2 linked regions of the Homo sapiens genome follow. The protein of the gene in region 2 interacts with the protein of the main gene of each other region in a biochemical or structural test. Each region holds a gene or a part of one and is shown on either strand. Other genes may lie near its edges.

Region 1 (7,105 bases), on a different chromosome or scaffold from region 2:
ACCCCTCGCCACATGTTTATTCCAGGTGAAATATATGGAAGGTAAATGTGGAGCATTGCTGGCACGTTTAAAAGCAGTAGACTGCCTAGATGAGAGTGACGGTGACAAGGTTTACTCATATTTTTAAAATGTGTGGATAAATACATGTGTAACTCTATATCCACAAATCCATATGCACACCAAACATTGTCTATAGGTTAATAATTTCTTATTTTCCAAGAGTGTATGGAGGCTTTTGTGATTAATGAAATGTCAGTTCTTTTTAAAGCAATACCGAATTCCTGGGACTCACACATTTCCTTAGAGAAAACTAAAAGCATAGCTATCATTGTGTATGCAGTGGGAGATAGAACTTTTTAGATGTTTGAAAATGGCTTTCATATTTAAGAGTTAGGAACCATTAATCTTAGATGTGAGGAAACGGACAGGAGAAGGGAATGGATATGGCAGAGCCAGCCCTGGAATCTGGGCCTCCCAGTCCCTTTCTGCAGTCCTTAGCCTTGCAGGCTTCCACTTCCTGGTGGGAAATAGTGACAGAGAAGGTGGAGCTTCTCTGGAGGTCACTCCAAACCAGGAAGCTCTCAGGTTGCTGCTTACACAGCATCTACAATGTAAGAGATTTAAATCCTGTACTGGGCTCTTTCCTCACAGCAGAATTTTTCAAGGAAATTCTATAGGGCCCAGTCATCCGGTTCCCCAAGGGGACTTAGGGTCCCAAAAGTGAGGAGCTGTTGGCCTCCCTCTGGTGGGTAGAAGCCGCAATTACAGACTTTCTGGGAAACCGGCCTGGCCACACCCTTCCTCTGAGACTTTACCTACTAGCGTTAACAATGATTTATGTTTGGATGGTGACATTTGCAACTTAGCATTTAGCCTTTCGTTTGTTCTTAGGATGGACTTCCTGGAGGCCAGAGCTAGAGGCTTTCTCACTCCGTAATTAACACGTGCTAAGAACTGATCTGAGCCCTTAGCTACACAGCTGCAGATTGATTCCTCCTTCCTGTACAGCCTTTATGCTGCAGAGATCCTAGCTGAGTCTTGCCTCCCATTGCATCTTACAGCGTTAGAACCCCTGAACCCTAAGAGAGGTGGACTTTTTCCCAAGAATCACATTGTTGGAGGATGATTGTTTTTGTTTTGCTCTAAATTGAACTTTTCATTAAGAAAAGTGTTGGTAGGTTCAGGGGCCTTTAGGGGAGAAACAAAATACCACAGCCTAGAAACAGATGTGTTTGTTCTGTTACAACATGCCCTTCATATCAGGCCTAAAATCTCCCTGTCTTACTAAGGTATCAGATGACAGGAAGGAGACTGGCTGGGAGGCCACACCAGGCTGAGGAGCATGGGCTTTGTCACCTTTCTCTGGAACTACAGATTCTCCCCCTGCCCCTTTTCCTTCCAGAATGCAGACAGTTTTGCTTTTCCAGTTTCACAGTGCCTTTCTGCTTCACATTTTTCTCTCCTTAACATCAGTCTTGGTGTAATTTAGAGATTATTTTCTTTTGAAAACTGTTGCTGTTGCTATCAGCCACAAGGAGAAAATTAAAACCTCTTTGCATTTCCTCCCAGAGGTAATTCTCCAAAGTGAAAGAAAGAGACACAATTATCAAATTACTAAAATGGAACGGCATAATTTGTAGAGCTCCAGGGCACTTTGGAGATGGGTCCTGAGGACGCCCAGAAACCGGAAAGCTCTGCCCAGGGTGGCGCAGTGGCTGAAGGAGAGGAGAACCGGCGCTCTCCACACCTCATGGCACTCTTGGAGTCTTACTTGGTGGGGATGGCGATAGCAAGGAGCAAACATTATGATAAACGGATACTGTGAAATAATTTTTAAAAATGCATGCTAAGCGCTCAACATTTGAGGAAAGAAAAAAATACGATGAAAAAGACGTAGCAATTTTAAAAACCTCAACTATTGTCTTCTCATTCTTAACCAACACCCTCCGGAGCTTTCTGTCCCTGCTGTAGCAGGACTGCAACCCCAGACAGTATGGAAGGGAATGGGCGTGGCTCTGTTCCAATACTTCATTTATGGACGCTGAAGTTTGATTTCCACATAATTTTCACATGTCAGAAAGTATTTTTCTTCTTTTGATTTCTTTCAATCATTTACAAATGTAAACTTTATTCTTAGCTTGTGGGCAGAACAGAAAACCCGACTTGGCCCGCGGGCCAGTTTGCTGACTCTCCACTAAGGAGAGGTAAAGAAAGAGATTTTGGAGGTGGAATTATGGAAAATATGAGTTCAACTGGGAGATGAAAGGAGATAAGAAGAGAAAAATAAGTTACGGAGTGAGTGCCTAAATAGATGGTGGGGTAAAAGGAAGAGGAAGGAGGAGAGGGCTCAGCTGGGACCGGGTTCCTCCCACATTCTTGGCCGCGGCGCTGCGGGCGGCGACGGGCTAAAGTTTCAGTCCCGTTGGGTCTTGGCCGTCTGCCGGGTGCTTACTGAAACTTTGATTTTCCCTGGGGCTAGACGACCAAGTTCTAAAATGTCCCTTTTCTGGTGTACAGAAATAACTAGTGACCCCTCGCAGCTTTCCAGCCCCCTGCCTTAAACTTGCTCCTAGGCGTCTCTGGGCTCCCGGGAGACCGCGGGCGAGGGGCTGGAGGCAGTGACCCACGACGGGTCCCCCCCCCGCGCGGTGAGCGGCCAGCACTTCCTCTTCCCCAGCCCTGGGCCTTGTCGTGACTGGGAAGGCTAAAGAACCTCCGCTGCTACCCTAGGCGGCCACCCCAAGGATGATTTTAGGGCTTCATCCTTCCATCCCTTCTTCCCCAGTTCCCTCCCACGAGGCTGATTTTTCCTGCTGTTTCCTGCCACGTCCACACATAAGTCAAAGATAAAGTCTGCTGGGAAGTATGTGGGTTTTTTTTCTTTTCTTTTTCTTTTCATGTAAGAAGAAGAAGAAGAAAAGTGAGGCTTACCATGTTGGAGCTGAGCGAGGCGCGGGAGGCTGTGGCTGGGAGCGGCGCTGAGAGCTCTGTGCGCGCGGCGTGCGGGTCTGGAGCCTCTCCTCAACCCACGCCCTTCCCGGCCCAGCCTTGCCCAAGCCTTACTCAGACAGCTTCCGCGCCTGCCCCGCCCCTCCCCGCCTCCCGGGCTGGGCCTGGGACCGCGGCCGGCGCTAACCACAGAACTGAGCTTTAAGACTCAAATAAACCCACCGTCCTCTCCAGCGATTTAAGCAGTCTCACTCTCCCTCCTTTCCCTCTTTTCCCTCCTCTTTCCCCCCGGCCCCCTCCACCCCGTCCTGTGATTCCTGAAGATTTTTGACTTTTTAGAATTATAAGTTTTGCACAGTAGTCTTCGGGAAGTCTGTCCATGTCCGTGGGTCTTTCCCATGTATGAGCTCATTCTGGGCATTTAGGTTAGATAGGCAAAAAAGGTCTCTTTTGGAAACAGCAGTGGGCCGGGCGCGGTGGCTCAGGCCTGTAATCCCAGCACTTTGGGAGGCCGAGGCGGGTAGATCACATGAGGTCAGGAGTTTGAGATCAGCCTGACTAACATGGTGAAACCCCTGTCTCTACTAAAAATACAAAATTAGCCTGGCGTGGTGGCACACGCCTGTAATACCAACTACTTGGGAGGCTGAGGCAGAAATATCGATTGAACCCGGGAGGTGGAGTTTGCAGCGAGCTGAGATCGCGCCGTTGCACTCCAGCCGCCTGGGCAACAAGAGCGGAACAATGTCTCAAAAAACAAACAAAAACAGGCCGGGCGCAGCGGCTCACTCCTGTAATCCCAGCACTTTGGGAGGCCGAGGCGGGTGGATCACGAGGTCAGGAGATCGGGACCATCCTGGCTAACGCGGCAAAACCCCGTCTCTACTAAAAATACAAAAAATTAGCCGGACGTGGTGGCGGGCGCCTGTAGTTCCAGCTACTCGGGAGGCTGAGGCAGGAGAATGGCGTGAACCCCGGAGGCAGAGCTTGCAGTGAGCCGAGATCGCGCCACTGCACTCTAGCCTGGGCGACAGAGCAAGACTCCATCTCAAAAACAAACAAACAAAAAACAAAACCAAGAGTGTTAGTTAGGACAGAGTGCGGGTCAGAATTGTAGACAAGTTCCTAGGAGTTGGGGCTCTCTATTGCTCCACAGGGAAGATATTTAACAGTAAACAGTGGTGAGTATTGCCAAATCAATTGCCACGGGATTACTGGGGATTATTGTCAAGGGACAATTGCCACCCCTCTCTCTCAAACTTTTCTGTAAACTGAGGACAGCCACAAAGACAAAATCCGAAAACCAAACTACTGCACTTAAAAATTGATCCGTGCTAGTAAGGCATTTATCTGTGTGCAGTTTGCAATGAAATTAGGAGTTGTATTAAGAATCAGAAGACTTGGGTTCCAGTCTTGTGTCTGTTACTTCATTGCAATACTTTTGACCAGACTTGTCACTCCTTTGAGCTTCCACTTCCTTATTTGTAATAGGTCTTGAGATAGGCCTTTCCTGTTTCATAAGATTGTTAGGACTGTCAAGTAAAGTGAGGGCTTAGAAAGGTCTCCAAAAACTGCAGAGTAGACGCAAATGAAAGATAATGGGCTATAGGCATTGTGTGAACTGCTTCCCTGCACCTGCTCTCACAGGTGCCCTGAGCACGTGAGACAAATCTCCATCTCAGTTCTCAGCTACTCCAGACCCACATTTTCAGTTACTTGTTTATGAATCCACTTGAGAGTCCCACCTGCACTTCAGACTCAATAATTCAGGAATAACTAGTTTTCCCCAAACCTGTTTCTGTCTTCTCTGCTAAGGGTACTATCACTCTACCATTTTCCCTGCTTGAAAGCATTGGAGCCACTGAGTCTAAATGCCTTTTTGACTCACAGTTCTTATCAAGTGCCAGGTAATAGACTTCAAACCTTTGGTGGTGGGGGGTGTTACATGAACGGCTGCTGGGGTTCCTTAATACCTTAAAGTTACATGTAAATTTTTTGCATAAGAGAAATTTTTCTGGCGAAGAGTCCACATCTTTCATCTGATTCTCAGAAAAATTTATGATCCCAACATATTAAGGAATCATTTGTCTAAATTACTCCATAACTCAATCATGAGGCCTTACACACCACAGTTCTTTTCTTTTTTTTCTTTTTTGAGACGTTGTTTCACTCTTGTTGCCTAGGCGGCTGGAGTGCAACGGGGTGATCTCAGCTCACTGCAACCTCCGCCTCCCGGGTTAAAGCGATTCTCCTGCCTCAGCCTCCTGAGTAGCTGGAATTACAGGTGTGCGCCACCACACCCTGCTAATTTTTTGTGTATTTTTAGTAGAGACGGGGTTTCACCATGTTGGTTATGCTGGTCTGGAACTCCTGACCTCGTGATCTGCCCTCCTCAGCCTCCCAAAGTGCTGGGATTACAGGTGAGAGCCACTGCGCCCGGCCACTATAGTTCTTTTTAAGAGAAAATGCCTCACTTAGAACCTGTGCTCAAGGGGCAGCCCAGGTGGCCAAGTTTTGCATGATTTGACACACTGTGACCCTGTTAGAGTGGACTGGGTTGAAGTTAGTCTGGACACCAGCACTGCCAATCTATAGGATGGCTGGTAGTGGATGTTTCATGACATAACATGGAAAGATGAACTAGGGCCAAAAAGCTTCTTGTTTTTGGGAAACTGAAATTAGAAGCACATAGAAAATTAGGCATTTAGAAGAGCTGAAGCTGAACATTTGCATAGACAGAACCATGAAGTCATGGCAAATAAAACTTATGGAGAAGACATCATGAGTAAGTGGAAGCTATGAAATTTGGAAGAAATAGACAGAGGGGAATGTAAGCCAATTGCTAACTGTAAATTAAAGAAAAGGCTACTTGGGTGTTCGCTGAATTGTGAAAATGGTGAACCACTGGGAGTGAAGAGCCTGCAGTCTGACTTCATTAGCGTTTTTGTTCTTCCTAAACCTAGTTGTTAGTTTTTCTTACTTTCTCTATGACATTTATTCTTTCAATAACTCTTCAGCCCCATGAAGTAGCTTGAATGAAACCAAAGGAAAAAGCTAAACCAAATAAGTATGACTTGTTCAGAGCCAGGTTGGGGGATCAGCCCCACCCAGTTAGGGCTGCCTGCTTGACAGCTGCTCCCCAGGGTCACGCTGAAAGGGGTTCATTTCTAGGTTATCAGTCAAAGGAGGGAGAGTTCAGGAAAGGTAGCAGGCAAGGTAGATTTGTCAAAGCAGGCAAACAATGAATCAAACTGAAGGGCTGGAGCCAGCAAGGAGCTGAGGATGAGTGAGAGCTGGTAAACTGACAGCAAGAGACAAAAATAATATACAGATGGGTAAAAGGGCTTATCAGGAAATAAATGTAGGAACTTCCATGGCTCAAGGTAATTCTTATGTGCAGTCTGATCTCTGTGTAGCATTGGGTTGATTCTGAAATGGACACAGTACAGTGACAAATGCAATAACAGGGGTGTGACCAAGACACAATGACAAATGCCAGGAAAGAAATGAGAGGTTAACTCTGGGAGAGGAGGGAAAGTATCCTGGAAAAGTGCTGCTTGAGGTGGGTATTGAAATATAAATAAGAATTCACCAGGTGGATGAACATGGTAGTGAAAAAAGGTGAACTCAGGCAAGATAGCACAGTATTTACAGCCACAGGCTCTGCCACAAGACTGGGGTTCAAATCCCAGTGTCACAACGTATTAGCTATATGAAATCTAGCAAGTTATTTGTTGGCTCTGTGTCTCAGTTTCCTCATCTGTAAAGTGGAGAGAATAGTAGTTGTTGTGAGGATTAAGAGTTAATTCATGTTTAATGCTTAGGACTTACAGCAGTGTCTTCAGAGGAAGTTTTACATAGTGGCTTGTGCAGAATTAAGGTTCGGGATGAAACATTGTTCGTGTTCTCAGTACTTGCAGGTGGTTCAGTAGAACCAGACTTAGGGTATGGGGTGATGGTAAATGTGAGGCAGAAGCTGTGGGATGTGAGATGGGAGAGACAAGGGTCAGCTCATTAGGAGATATACTTGGAAGTTTGGATTGTAACCTTAGGGTTATGTATCAAGGAACATTGAAGATTTTTAAGCAGGACAGTGACGTGATCCCCTTCACTTTTGGAACTGTAGAAAACATGTTCTAGAAAGAAGAAAGACTAG
Region 2 (7,023 bases):
ATCCTGGCCAACATAGTGAAACCCTGTCTCTACTAAAAATACAAAAATTAGCCAGTCGTGGTATCGCACACCTGTAATCCCAGCTATTTGGGAGGCTGAGGCAGGAGAATTGCTTGAACCAGGGAGCCTGGAGATTGCAGTGAGCCGAGATCGTGCCACTGCACTCCAACCTGGCGACAGAGCGAGATTGTTTCAAAATAACAACAATGAAAAACCCAACACCTTTTCACTCCCTAAAGCGTTGTGGATTATCAAAGGTTTGTGTTTTTTTTTTTGGTTGGTTGGTTGGTTGGTTGTTTTAAACAGAGTCTCACTCTTTCGCCCAGGCTAGAGTGCAGTGGCACCACCTCAGCTCACTGCACCCTCCACCTCCCAGGTTCAAGTAATTCTTGTGCCTCAGCCTCCCAAGTTGCTGGGACTACAGGTGCGTGCCACCACACCCGGCTAATTTTTTGTATTTTTTTAGTAGAGAGGGGGATTTCACCTTGTTAGCCAAGATGGTCTCAATTTGCTGATCTCGTGATCCGCCCGCCTGAGCCTCCCAAAGTGCTGGGTTACAGGCATGAGCCACCATGCCCTGCCATCAAGGTTTTTACACAGTAACCCAACAGACTTCTTTTATGGAATGTAGTTGTTTTCTTTAATCATCTTTCTAGACCAGAGGTTGTTAGTGACAAGCAGAACCTGTGTGCAGTGGCAGACACTCTTGAAAATATATGAGAGACTGGGGCTTAAGTTCAGGTCTCAGTAAGCAACTATAATCCTATCCCCCGCCTTTTCCCCTCACTAAAGAATTATGTATTGGCCGGGCACGGTGGCTGACACCTGTAATCCCAACACTTTGGGAGGCTGAGGTGGGTGGATCACGAGGTCAGGAGATTGAGACCATCCTGGCCAACACAGTGAAACCCCGTCTCTACTAAAAATACAAAAAAGAAATAGTTGGGCGTGGTGGCACGTGCCTGTAGTCCCAACTACCCTGGAGGCTGAGGCAGGAGAATTGCTTGAACCTGGGAGGCAGAGGTTGCAGTGAGCTGAGATCGTGCCACTGCACTCCAGCCTGGGTGAAAGAGCGAGACTGTGTCTCAAAAAAAATAATAAATAAAATAAAAAAGAATATGTATTAGACTACAGCCCCTGACAGTGCTGATGATGTAGGAATAAACTTGAATTTGCTCAAATATATTAAGACTAAATCACTGCAACATGAGAACTATATGTTTTAGTATAAACATGGCTGGTGGTAGTGTAATTGTTTAATAATTTGTCACAATGTTTAGATTAAGAGCTGCTTGAGAGCTGTTTTTGTACCATTTACCTTTTCAACATTTCTTTTCAAAGTATGCCTAAGAATGACAAATTTACTCTGTAACTGAAGCCTTAATATTTTATATCGAACAGTTTTAAAGGACACCTTGGAAAAAAAGGGGGTATTAGGGCATTTAAAAGCAAGGATCCGAGCTGAAGTTTTCAATGCCCTAGATGATGACCGTGAACCCCGACCATCATTGTCTCATGAAAACCTTCTAATTAATGAATTAATTCGAGAGTATTTAGAATTCAACAAATATAAGTATACAGCATCTGTCCTCATAGCAGGTAAGTGGTTATTATTTATCACATAAAATCTGTTTCTCCCCTTTCCCCAATTCTCAGAAACTGTTTATCCTAGAAATCTAATTCCCTTACCAGATAGTGCCATCTGGGTGACTGGGACACAAAAATCACATGGGTTCTTTCTGTAGCTTAAACAGATTCTTACAAGAGAAAATACATAACTAAATAATCACTTAAACTAGGCATATACTTGGAAAAATCATCTATAATTCCTGTAACCGAGAATAAACAATTGTTGACGTTTTGTCCTGTTTGCCACCAGTTTTTTCCTGTGTATTAAGCTTTAAAAATATACGCTGATTAAGTATATTATTTGTTAAAAAATAGGCTGGGTAGGTGGCTCACACCTGTAATCTCAGTGCTTTGGGAGGCCGAGGCAAGATTACTTGAGCCCAGGAGTTCGCGACCAGCCTGGGCAACACAGGGAGACCCCATCTCTGGAAAAGAGTTTTTAAAATTAGCCATGCATGGTGGCACGTGTCTGTTGTCCTAGCTGAGGCTGAGCAGGGGTCGGGGAGGGGGTGATCATGTGAGCCCATGTGCTCTGGGCTTTAGTGAGCCATGATCGCATCACTGCACTCCAGTCTGGGCAACAGAGAGAGACCCTGTCTCTTTTTTCTTTTTCCAGAGACAGAATCTCACTCTGTTGCAAAGGCTGGACTGCAGTGGTGCGATCATGGCTTATTGCAACTTTCACCTCCTGGGCTCAAGCAGTCTTCCTGCGTCAGTCTCCTGAGTAGCTGGGACCACAGGTGCATGCCTCCATGCCCAGCTAAATTTTTTTATTATTTATAGAGATGAGCTCTCACTATGTTGCCCAGCCTGGTATTGAACTCCTGGGCTCAGGTGATCCACCTATCTCACACTCCCCAAATGCTGGGATTACAGGCATGAGCCACTGCACCCAACCCCTGTCTTTTTTTTCTTTCTTTTTTTTTGAGACGGAGTCTCACTCTATTGTGATCTCAGCTCACTGCATCCTCCGCCTCCTGGGTTCAAGCAGTTCTCCTGCCTCAGCCTCCCGAGTACCTGGAACTACAGGTGTGTGCTGCCAGGCCCGGCGAATTTTTGTATTTTTTAGTAGAGACGGGGTTTCACTATATTGGACAGGCTGGTCCAACTCCTGTCTCTTAAAAGAAAAAAAACTGTCCCTGTCTATATATAGATATGTAGATATATGTCTATTTGTGTGTGTGTGTGTGTGTATCTAGATAGATAGATAGATAGATAGATAGATAGATAGATAGATAGATAGATATAATGGAGATAAAACTTTGAAATATTACTACTATGTAGTGCTTAGGTACATTTACAAATGTATGTATCTAAAAGCATGGTATTTATAAAGGACTAGGCTGGTATATTAGGTTGTTTTTGGATTGCTATAAATAAACACCTGAGACTGGGTAATTTATGAAGAGAAGAGGTTTTTTTGTATGTTTGTTTGTTTGTTTGTTTGTTTTGAGACAGAGTCTTGCTCTGTCACCCAGGCTGGAGTGTGGATTGATCTCGGCTCACTGCAACGTCTACCTCCTGGGTTCAAGTGATTCTCCTGCCTCAGCCTCCCAAGTAGCTGGGACTACAGGCCATGCCCAGCTAATTTTTTGTATTTTTAGTAGAGACAGGGTTTCACCGTTAGCCAGGATGGTCTCAGTCTCCTGACCTCGTGATCCGCCCTCCTCGGCCTCCCAAAATGTTGGGATTACAGGCGTGAGCCACCGCACCCGGTTGAAGAAAAGAGGTTTACTTGGCTCACGGTTCTGCAGACTGTACAAGCATGGCACTGGCATCTGCTTAGCTTCTGGGAGGCCTCAGGGAGCTTTTGCTCACTGCAGCAAGCACGTTACATGGTGAAGGCAGGGGCCAAGGGTGGGGAAGGTTAGTGCCACACACTTATAAATGACCTGTTCTCATGAGAACCCACTCACTGTGGTAAGGACAGCACCAGGCCATGAGGGATCCACCCCCATGACCCAAACAACTCCCGCCAGGTCCCACTTCCAACACTGGGGAGTGCGTTGCAACATGAGATTTGGGCGGAGACAAATATCCAGACTCTAGCAGCGGGAAACTCCAAACTCATCCTAGTGATAGGAGGCAGAGAATGATATTGGGGGTTGGGGGTGGGGAGATAAAGATAAATTCCCTTTATCTGTTGAATTTTATTTCTTGAGAAATAAATTTGCTCTTCAAGTGTAACAGTTATTGAGTGGTGAGAATATTTTTAATATCTTCTGCTGACTTTTAAATGTCTTCTTTCAAAAAAGTGAGGAGAGACTGGATGGATATAAATAAGTCAGAATCCTGGTTACCCCTGGACTTGGTGGGGTGGGGGATGCAGCTGGGGGTTGGTCTGAGGCACCCTGAATGTGTGTCATCGGATTCCCTCGTTTCAGGTTCCATCTCTGCTTTGACTACTTCATGCCTCAGCAAAGAAGCGAGGCCAGGAAGTAGATTTTGCAAGAGAGAATGAATTCTTTGTGAAGTTAGAATTTTTCGTTACAGATCCTTTATTTAATATTAAACATACGTCTGAACTACATAAAGACTCATGATTTTTATGGTTTAAGGATCTTTGATATCAGCATCTCTGCTTTCCTTTGTTTGTTATAGATGGCTGTATGATACCAGTTACACCCAGAAAAGAAGAAATTATGAAAATAGTGGGGACTTGGGATTCACTAGAATGAAATATAGTGACAGTAGTCAAGTTTTCATATTAAATGGTTTGGCTTTTTTTAAAAAACTGGGATATAATTTACATACAATAAAATTTACCTTTTAAACTGTACAGTTCTGTACTTTAGTCAAATGCCTGCAGTTGTGTAATTACTACCAGATCACAATCAAGATATCACCAGCCTTTTTGGCACCAGGGACTGGTTTCATGGAAGACAATTTTTCCATGGACCTGGGAGGATGGTTCGGGATGATTCAAGCATACTCCATTTATTGTGCATTTTATTTCTATGATTGTGTTGTAATATATAATGAAATAATTATAACTCACCATAATGTAGAATCAGTGGGAGCCCTAAGCCTGTTTTCCTGCAACTAGATGGTCCCATCTGGGGGTGATGGGAGGCAGTGAGAGATCATCAGGCCTTAGATTCTCATAAGGAGTGCACAGCCCAGATCCCTCGCATGTGCAGTTCACAATAGGGTTCACGCTTCTATGAGAATCTAATTCTGCCAACAGGAGGCTGAGCTCAGGCAGTGATGCTAGTGATGGGCAGCAGCTGTAAACACAGATCAAGCTTCCCTCACTTGCTTGCCCACTCCTCACCTCCTGCTGTGTGGCCCAGTTTCTAATCTGTGGCTCGGGGGTTGGGGACCCTTGCTGTAGATGGAACCGTACATGATGTAGCCTTTTGAGTCTGCCTTTTTTCACTTAGTGTAATACATTCAAGATTCAGCCATGTTTGTTTTTCCTTTGAACACTGTTCTATTGTGTGGCTGTGCTAGTTTGCTCATCTATGACCAGTTGATGGGCATTGAGTTGTTTCTAGTTTTAGCAGTTAGGAATCAAGCTGCCATAAACATTTACATACAGGTTTTTGTGAGAACATAAGTTTTCATTAATCTTGGGTAGAAAGCTAAGAGTGAGATTGCTGGGTTGTGTGGTTAAGTGCACGCTCACCTTTATAAGAAAACTGCTCAACTGTTTTCCAAAGTGCCTGTACCATTGTGCTTTCCCACCAGCAAAGTGTGAAAGTTCCAGCTGCCCCACACTTCAGGTTAACTTTAATTTTTATTTATAAGTATTGTCACCAAGTGGATATTCTTTTCAAAAATAAGTTATTGATAAACAGACTTCCAAAATTTAGTATTATAATTTGGATATAGAAATGGTATTTTTCCAACCAAACACTGGGGAATTTAAAAAGTGAATTTATGTTAAACTGTATTAAGACATGCATTTAACAAAAGAGATATTTTGAAAGTCATAAAATCACAGGCAATTTGATCTGTCTTGGTGTGTGTTGTCATCATTCTTCCAAAATCTAAAAAGTGTATGTCTGGTAAATGTGATTCTTTTCAAAATCTTATTTGCTTTTTAGTTTAATAGACTGAGTGTTCTCATGAATTTATTTCTCCCAGAATCTGGTCAACCTGTAGTTCCGTTGGACAGACAGTTTCTCATCCATGAACTAAATGCATTTGAAGAATCAAAGGATAATACAATGTAAGACATTTTTTTAAAGAAGTTTCCACATATTGTATTGAGTCATAATTGCACCATGGTGGTTTTACTTCATTTTAATTCAAGTATTTATTCAGATCTAGTGTGTGTCAAGCATTGTCCTAAATCCAGGGTGTGCAGCAGTGAATAAGTCAGATGAGATCTGTGTTTGCTGAAGCTACAATTACATGGCTTCAGAGTGACTCAGCATCTTCTTTCTGGAGTTAGCTCCTTTTGACTTCTTGATCCTTTGTCCTTCTAAGGCTTTGTTTGTTTTTTAATTTATAATTTCAACTTTTATTTGTATTTTCAAATTATTTTTGTAGAGGCAAGGCCTCGCTTTTTTGCCCAGGCTGGTCTCGAACTCCTGACCTCAAGTGATCTTCCTGCCTTGGCCTCCCAAAGTGCTAGGGTTGCAGGTGTGAGCCCTCCATGCCTGGCCTCTGAGACTTTGCCTTGTCAGTTGTTTTCTTCATATTTAACTCTTCCTTCACTCCAACTTAGGAATGTACTCAGATCTCTCCTCTCCTAAAACAAAAACAAAAACAAAAACAAAAACTATGAACTTCCAACCCCAAGCTTCTGCTCGAATACCTTTTTCTACCAAGATTACTGAATCAGCCCACTGCTTTCGTTACTATTACTCTGTCCTTTGCCCTCTGTGTACCTCCTCTCACCAACTATGCTCTTGAAAAGGAGGATGACCACTTTCTAGTTTTCTTAGTTTTTTTCTATTTCAGTGTTTCTTAAACTTTTTCTGGAGAGTCCCTGTATAGCCAAAAAAAAAAAAAAAAGTACATAGGAGACCTGAGAACATAGCTTAAAGCAGCCTTTTTTTAAATCTAGAACTTTCTTTGAAGCCTTACGTTTTCTCATCCTAAAAGTTCTTAAGGCCAAGTGAGGTATCTCGTGCCTGTAATGCCAGCACTTTGGAAGGCTGAAGTGGAAGGATCACTTGAGCTCAGGAGTTCAAGACTAGCCTGGACAACATGGGGAAACCCCATCTCTAGCCAGACGTGGTGGCTCATGCCTGTAGTCCCAGCACTTCAGAGGCTGAGGCAAGTGGATCACCTGAGGTCAGGAGTTTGAGACCAGCCTGGTCAACATGGCGAAACCCCATCTCTACTAAAAATAACAAAAAGATTAGCAAGGCATGGTGGCGTGTGCCTGTAGTCCCAGCTGCTAGGGAGGCTCAGGCATGAGAATCGCTTTAACCTGGGCAG

Evidence for each region. The genes of interacting proteins can lie anywhere in the genome.
Region 1: the proteins of CEP20 (region 2) and S100A11 form a complex in vitro, tested with the Homo sapiens proteins (one study listed by BioGRID).

What each region holds. Positions count from the first base shown.
Region 1 is NC_000001.11:152,033,982-152,041,086, forward strand, and holds the start of S100A11 (protein S100-A11), read right to left. Parts: upstream 3,024-7,105; 5' UTR 2,935-3,023; coding exon 2,932-2,934; intron 1-2,931. UniProt on the Homo sapiens protein: Facilitates the differentiation and the cornification of keratinocytes.
Region 2 is NC_000016.10:15,878,584-15,885,606, reverse strand, and holds part of CEP20 (centrosomal protein 20), read left to right. Parts: intron 1-1,401; coding exon 1,402-1,599; intron 1,600-2,558; exon of another isoform or gene 2,559-2,586; coding exon of another isoform or gene 2,587-2,658; intron 2,659-5,718; coding exon 5,719-5,803; intron 5,804-7,023. UniProt on the Homo sapiens protein: Involved in the biogenesis of cilia. Required for the recruitment of PLK1 to centrosomes and S phase progression.